Homo sapiens: one gene and its partner. The protein of the gene in region 1 interacts with the protein of each later gene in a pairwise test. Each region holds a gene or a part of one and is shown in the gene's direction. Other genes may lie near its edges.

Region 1 (3,945 bases):
GGCAAGGAGATGGGGGAGAAAGGGCAGTTTCCTAGACCCTGGAAATTTCCCGACAGCCTCGGGGGAGTCCACCCACCGAAATCTCCCCTAAATAAGAGCACCTCCTCTCTTCCTCCCAACCTTGTTGGACTTAGTCGGCCGCCATCTGGATGGCAGACTGTGCCAGGCAGCCCCCCAATATTCACCTTCGAACAAATCACCTTCTGAGCACCCTAAGGGAAGCAAACCAGTCAAGAAAGGCACAGCCCCAAGGAGGCAGGGAGCCTGCTGTGGAAAGGCCGGGTTCTAGCCCCAGCTCTCCCCCTGAGCTTCCGTGCTACCGAAAGGCAAATGCGTTCATTGCACAAATATCCCTTTGGATGCAAACTGGGCTTCTGGTGAAATCCAGAAATGGCTTGGACTGCTCTTCAGCAACTGAAAGCCTTTCGGATTTTAGACCTTTGTTTCCGCATCTGTCAATAGTGGGGTTTAGACTCATGATTTCCAAGGCATGTCTTCCTCTAAATTTGTGTGGATTATACAATCTTGAAAGAGATCCCTTTTCTCTCCAGGTACCAAATAGTACTCATTATTTCATAATACAGGGCTGCAGCTGAGCTGAGCTGAGCAGGAAGGGGCTGGGCTCTGGTTACCCTGGAGAAAGTTTCCTTTTCACCCAGTGTGGCAGAAGGTGCCCTAGAAGCTGAAACCAAGTTTTTTTCTTTAGGGCTGAGGGAGCCACCTCCTCCTGGATGCTGTGGTCTACCTGGCCTTTTCTACCAGGCTGCACACTGGAGGCGGGCGGCGGTTGGGGGGGGTTCTTTAAAGAGTTGTTCTCTGGAAGAGACAACTGGAGAGGACTGGGCTGTCATTTTGGAGGTCCATGAAATCTTCTGCAGGGAGAACCCCTGGCCAGCTGGAGAGTTGCAACGAGAGGGGCCGGTCGGGAACACAGTGCTCTGACACCGTCCCTGATGAGAGGCAGGACATCTCCGGCCGAAACAAAAGCATGGAACCAATTTGGCAGCATCATCTCTGCTCCAGAATCCGGGGAGGGAGAGGTCCCGACCTGGGAAGGGATGAAGCCAGCTTGTAGGCTGCGCAGGAACATGTTTGTTACAAAGATGTGGGAGGGAGCACACAGCCTGGGAAAGGGGCTGGGCCCCCACGGACCAGGCTGGGGCCATGGGAATGGGGCTGCCCCAGCTCAGAATATCTGATGTGGGCAGAGAGGGCCAAGGATGAAGGGGTGTAGTTAGAATAACAGTGACCCCCACGCAGCTGGAGGACAAAGCCAGGCCCACACTGAGAGACCAGAGGCTAAGGTTTCAAACTCCCTCGTTCATCCTTTTAATAAATGTTCCCCTCATATGTCAGGCAGGCCCTGTGGGCTTCTGAGGTTTCTCCTTTGCTGGAGCCCTCCTGCTCAGGTAGATCAATGGGCTTGTCCTGTTCCTTCCTCTCCCCTACTGTCCACCTCATGTCCACATCCTACCAGGAGGCCCTGCGACTTTCTTCCTCCATAGGAAGAGCCCCTCCATGCAATCACGGGTGCACTTACACTCTCACACACGTTCCCTTCCTCACACATATATAATCTCCCACACCCGACAGGGAGGCAGTGGCTCACACATTCTCACACGCCCTGTCACCTCTCCCGAAGAGCTGCAGTCTCTCAGACCATGGTGATGGCCTGTGAACGTCCACCCTCTCAGCCCATTCCATTTTACCCACTGATGTTACAGCTCAGGTCCAGGTTTGCCACTCCTCTGCTCAAAAACCTCCCCAGGCTCACCAGTGCCTATTAATAAGCACAGGTACATGGTGTAGGCACTCCAGGCTCAGCGTGACCTGGCTGCAGCCACCTCTGCAGGCACCTTCTCCAGATGGTCATCCGAAGCCTGGTACTGTCTCACCCTCTGCCTGAGCTCAAGCCGTTGCTGGAATGTGCCGAGTAGAGGGTGGCAGTCTTTGTAGACACACAAACTTGGATTCTAAACTGCATTCTGATGCTTCCTGGATTTCTTCACTTTGCTAAACCTCAGTTTCCTTACCTGTCAAATGAGTGTGAGGACAGTATGAGGCGAGCTGTGTAAAGGGCTCAGCATGCTGCCTAGCATGGAGTAAACACTCAGGAGATATCAGCTGCTGTAATAATGATAGTAATGACACATTATTAGGATTATTAGAATGGCATTATTATTGTTATATCATCCTTCGTGGCTCCTCCCAAGTGTTTATTCTTTCAAGTAATTATTCCATATTCCCAATAAACAGGCATTAAAATTCCCAATAAACATACTCATATACCGTGAATGTCCTGTCAGTTCTTCCTTGAGAGCACACACCTGCATTTTAGCTGCAGAGGGACACGCCCCGCCTCCCACCCCGCCCGCTCCACTGCACCGCCTCTCAATGGCAGGTCTGTTCTCCCCACGGTGCCTGGCACAGTGTCAGACACGTGGAGAAAGCCCAGTGAACAGCGTGTGTGCTGTGACACGCATGGGGAAGAGTCCTCATCACCAGGAGGTGTAGACACCTAGTCGCCCTTCCCGGCTGTCTCCCATACGCCGGTGCACACCACGCGTTCCCAAGATGCACATCCCTTTATTACCGTGCGTCACCTCAGTCTCCCACTTGCTTTGGTAGAGTCTAGAAACTAAGAATTTGACCCCATCTGAGGTCTGAGAGATGCTTAAAAGCTGAAGTCAAAGGAGAGAGGCTGATTCCTCACAGCATTTTGGTAGTTGGGATTTGACAGAGACACAGAGATTAGAAATGAGGCAATGGAGGAAGGAGGATACCGAGAAAGTTTTAAATGCCTGAAAAATTCCCTACAGATCCTTTGGTTGTTCTGAGCTTAGAATGGATTTGATGTAAAGGGATAATGATGCTGAAGCGTCCTTTCATTCACACATCAACATTTATTGAGCAGCTGCTGTGCTCAGTGCCAGGGATCCAGAGATGGCCAGAGTGTGCCTGTGCTCCCAGGGAGCTATGGTGTGATGGGGGCATACACTGGTGACAGCCCTACATGGGAAGGGGTGTAGGCCTTGGCTCTGTGGGTATGAGGATGCATTGAGGGGAGGGAGGGGATAATGTGTTTCCTGAAACAGAGACAGAGTCAGGTCAACAGCCCCCTCCTCTAAAGGCAGGGCACATTTCTGGGTATCCAGGCCCGTGGGTCAGGGTTCATCTTCATGCCACTTCTACCCCTAAAAGGGAGACAATATGAAATTGTGCAAAGTGCCCTGTAGGCTGAAACATGCAGGCCAGAGCTGTCCTTCTAAAGAGGTAGGCAGAGAGAGCAAAGGGGGCTGCCTGGTGCTGTGGCCTGGCTGTGGGCAGGGTGGCGTGGGCCTGGCTTCTGGGTTCCTGGCCCTGGCAGCTGCTCTGGGTTTCTGTGTCTGCTGCTGGGACTGCTGTCTGTCCTGTCTTGAATGGGCCTTTGTCAGCAGGTGTGTGGGGGAGGTGATCCCATCCTGGCCTGACTCCATCACGCCCTGCTGGGGCGTGCAGCCTGCTGGGGCCCCAGCCTGTGGCTTCTGTGCAATACCACTCACCATTCAGACTCTCTGGAGCCAGACCGAGATCTCCTGGGGAACCAGAGGGGCCTCAGCCCCTGTGCTGGCAGGCAGGAGGCCTGAATCCCACTCTGACTCCCTCTGGGCAAGGCGCGGCATTGGCCTGTGCCTGAGTTGGCCTCGCAGTACTGTTCTGTGTTTCTGCTTCTGAGGGCTGTTGTGAGAAGTCCATGGGTGATGGCTGGGATGCCACAGTGTCACGGTTGTCAGTGATGGTGAGGTGACAGCAAGACCTGGGAAGGGGGCTGGGGCCCCACGGACCAGGCTGGGGCCCAGAGAATGGGGCTGCCCCAGTTCAGAATATCTGATGTGGGCAGAGAGGGCCAAGGATGAGGGGATGTGATTGGAATGACAGTGACCCGCATGCAGCTGGAGGACAAAG
Region 2 (3,600 bases), on another chromosome or scaffold:
CAGAAAAAAACATATAATAAAATCCAACATCCCTTCATGATAAAAACCCTCAAAAAACTAAACATCGAAGGAACACACCTCAAAATAATAAGAGCCATCCAGGACAAACTCACAGCCAACATCATACTGAATGGGCAAACGTTGGAAGCATTCCCCCTAAGAAATGGAAAAAGACAGGGATGCCTACTCCCACTACTCCTATTCAACATAGTAGTGGAAGTCCTAGCCAGAGCAATCAGGCAAGAAAAAGGAATAAAAGGCATCCAAATAGAAAGGGGAAGTCAAATTATCTCTGTTCACTGATGATATGATTCTATACCTAGAAAACCCTACAGATTCCTCCAAAATACTCCTAGACCTGATAAATGACTGGCAGTTTCAGGATGCAAAATCAGTGTATAAAAATCAGTAGCATTACTATATACCAACAATTGTCAAGCTGTGAGCCAAATAAAGAACAGAATCCCAATTACAATAGCCACACACAAAAATAAAATACCTAGGAATACATCTAACCAAGGAAGTGAAAGTGAAAGATCTCTACAAGGAGAACTAAAAAACACAAATAAATGAAAAACATTCCATGTTCATGGATTAGAAGAATCAATATCATTAAAATGTCCATACTGCTCAAAGCAATCTACAGATTCCACCCAATTCCTACCAAATTATCAATGTCATTTTTCATAAAATGGAATCATTCTACCAAAAAGACACCTGCATGTGTATGTTTGTCACAGCACTATTCACAATGGCAAAGTGATGGAATCAACTTAGGTGCCCATCAATGGTGGACTAGATAAAGAAAAAATGGTACATACACATCACGAAATACTATGCAGCTATAAAAAAGAATGAAATCATGTCCTTTGCTGCAACATAAATGCAGCTGGAGGCCTAAGTGAATGATCCTAAGTGAATTAACACAGAAACAGAAAATCAAATGCTGTATGTTCTCACTTTTAAGTGGGAGGTAAACAATGGGTACACGCAAACATTAAAGATGGAAACCATAGACAGTGGGGACTCCAAAGTGGGGGAGGGAGGGCGGAGGACAAGGGTGGGAAAACTGCCTATTGGGTACTATGTTCACAATTTTGGTAATGGGTTCAATAGAAGCCCAAACCTCAGTATTATGCAATATACCCATGTAACAAACCTGCACATGTGCTCCCGAATCTAAAATAAATATTTTCAAAAAGCAATTGACCTATATTATTAACATTTTAATCTACCTGTATATATGTTTTAATCTGCATGTGTTCATGCTTTGAAATATGGTACAGGTACTATGACAATCCCTGTTCTGTAGGGGAGGAAGAAGAGACACATCTCTTCCCCCACATCACAAAGTCAGGAAGGAACAGACCTCACGGAGTCCAGTCTGTCACTGGCTCATGCTTTGTGCCCTTAAAAGGCAAACTGGATAAGTGCCATTCTAGAGAATCAGACAAAATTCAAGTGGAAGAGAGGGGAGGGGAAGAAGACGTCAGCTGGGGCCTGTTTGGAGCATCCCAGCTGAGGCTGCGCAAGGAGGGAGGCACGCAGTTGTGGAATTTGTTCCCCTTTTTGCATACTGACCAGCCCTGGCAACGGAGCTCAAGGCATCTTTGTGCCACTGCTCAACAGTGAGTGATGTCATGGGCACGGCCAGGTCTTTATCAGTTCTGCCGGATAAATAGCCAACTGCACTAGGTCTGGAGAGACAGCAAGGTGCTGTGCGGCAGAGCATTTGGGGTCTCAAAGAAGCAGGTGAGCCTGGGCCCGAGGGGCTGGGTGGAGGAGCACCTTGGTGCTTCTCTGCTGGGGAAGGGACAGGGGACAGGGCATGCTCAGGAAGACAGGCAGGCTGACCCCGCCTGGAAGGCACCCAGAGACAAGAGGGGTGGGCGTAGTGACCTCGTGCCCTTTTAGGGGAGATGCTGCTGGCCAGAGGCCGTTAGGGCCCCCACTACCAACTCCATGTTACTCTCTCTCACCAGTGGCCACCACCATGGATACAGGCCCCGACCAGTCCTACTTCTCCGGCAATCACTGGTTCGTCTTCTCGGTGTACCTTCTCACTTTCCTGGTGGGGCTCCCCCTCAACCTGCTGGCCCTGGTGGTCTTCGTGGGCAAGCTGCGGTGCCGCCCGGTGGCCGTGGACGTGCTCCTGCTCAACCTGACCGCCTCGGACCTGCTCCTGCTGCTGTTCCTGCCTTTCCGCATGGTGGAGGCAGCCAATGGCATGCACTGGCCCCTGCCCTTCATCCTCTGCCCACTCTCTGGATTCATCTTCTTCACCACCATCTATCTCACCGCCCTCTTCCTGGCAGCTGTGAGCATTGAACGCTTCCTGAGTGTGGCCCACCCACTGTGGTACAAGACCCGGCCGAGGCTGGGGCAGGCAGGTCTGGTGAGTGTGGCCTGCTGGCTGTTGGCCTCTGCTCACTGCAGCGTGGTCTACGTCATAGAATTCTCAGGGGACATCTCCCACAGCCAGGGCACCAATGGGACCTGCTACCTGGAGTTCTGGAAGGACCAGCTAGCCATCCTCCTGCCCGTGCGGCTGGAGATGGCTGTGGTCCTCTTTGTGGTCCCGCTGATCATCACCAGCTACTGCTACAGCCGCCTGGTGTGGATCCTCGGCAGAGGGGGCAGCCACCGCCGGCAGAGGAGGGTGGCGGGGCTGGTGGCGGCCACGCTGCTCAACTTCCTTGTCTGCTTTGGGCCCTACAACGTGTCCCATGTCGTGGGCTATATCTGCGGTGAAAGCCCGGTGTGGAGGATCTACGTGACGCTTCTCAGCACCCTGAACTCCTGTGTCGACCCCTTTGTCTACTACTTCTCCTCCTCCGGGTTCCAAGCCGACTTTCATGAGCTGCTGAGGAGGTTGTGTGGGCTCTGGGGCCAGTGGCAGCAGGAGAGCAGCATGGAGCTGAAGGAGCAGAAGGGAGGGGAGGAGCAGAGAGCGGACCGACCAGCTGAAAGAAAGACCAGTGAACACTCACAGGGCTGTGGAACTGGTGGCCAGGTGGCCTGTGCTGAAAACTAGGTCCTCCGGGGGAGGAGGGTGTAGCTGGCGTGTCATCCTCAGGGCGCTTCCTCGCTCACGCCAGGAGGGACTTGGAGTGGCGAGCTGGGGCCCGATGGGGCTTGGGGGCAGAGTAGACATCTAGCCTCCCTAAGGGTATGCGCGCTAAAGCCCAGCTCTCGATCTCACCTCCATCCCCATCCACCCACACACTATGGATTGGGCTCTGGGAAGGGGTCAGGGTGAGAGGCTGCTCTGGAGAACAATGAGGTCCTCATAGCAGCAGGCAGCTCCTGTGTTTTCTTGAGGGTGGCAGAGGAGCTAAGAGCAGTGCCCAGGTCTGAGGGGGCTGCCCAGTGAGTGGCAGGGGCAGGAGAGGGGAGAACCCCATCCTCAGAGCTGCTCCCAGCCAGCGAGTCAGGAGCGGGGGAGACAGGGCTCCAGGGATGAGGCCGCATTCTGCTCCCACAGTGCCTTTTCCAGAAAGTTCCCATTGCTCAATAAATGTGGATCATCAGAGACATTTATGAACAATGACAGAAGAAAAATTACCCAAATAAATGTGGAAGCAAGCAAAAGAGAACAGT

Evidence for each region. The genes of interacting proteins can lie anywhere in the genome.
Region 2: the proteins of FXYD6 (region 1) and GPR42 interact in binary tests that used the Homo sapiens proteins (3 or more experiments, as listed by UniProt).

Annotation. Positions count from the first base shown.
Region 1 is NC_000011.10:117,869,883-117,873,827, reverse strand, and holds part of FXYD6 (FXYD domain-containing ion transport regulator 6 precursor), read left to right. Parts: intron 1-3,945. UniProt on the Homo sapiens protein: Associates with and regulates the activity of the sodium/potassium-transporting ATPase (NKA) which catalyzes the hydrolysis of ATP coupled with the exchange of Na(+) and K(+) ions across the plasma membrane.
Region 2 is NC_000019.10:35,369,367-35,372,966, forward strand, and holds GPR42 (G-protein coupled receptor 42), read left to right. Parts: upstream 1-1,701; 5' UTR 1,702-1,752; intron 1,753-1,982; 5' UTR 1,983-1,993; coding exon 1,994-3,034; 3' UTR 3,035-3,596; downstream 3,597-3,600. UniProt on the Homo sapiens protein: G protein-coupled receptor that is activated by short chain fatty acids (SCFAs), such as propionate. Hence may play a role in the regulation of whole-body energy homeostasis and/or in intestinal immunity.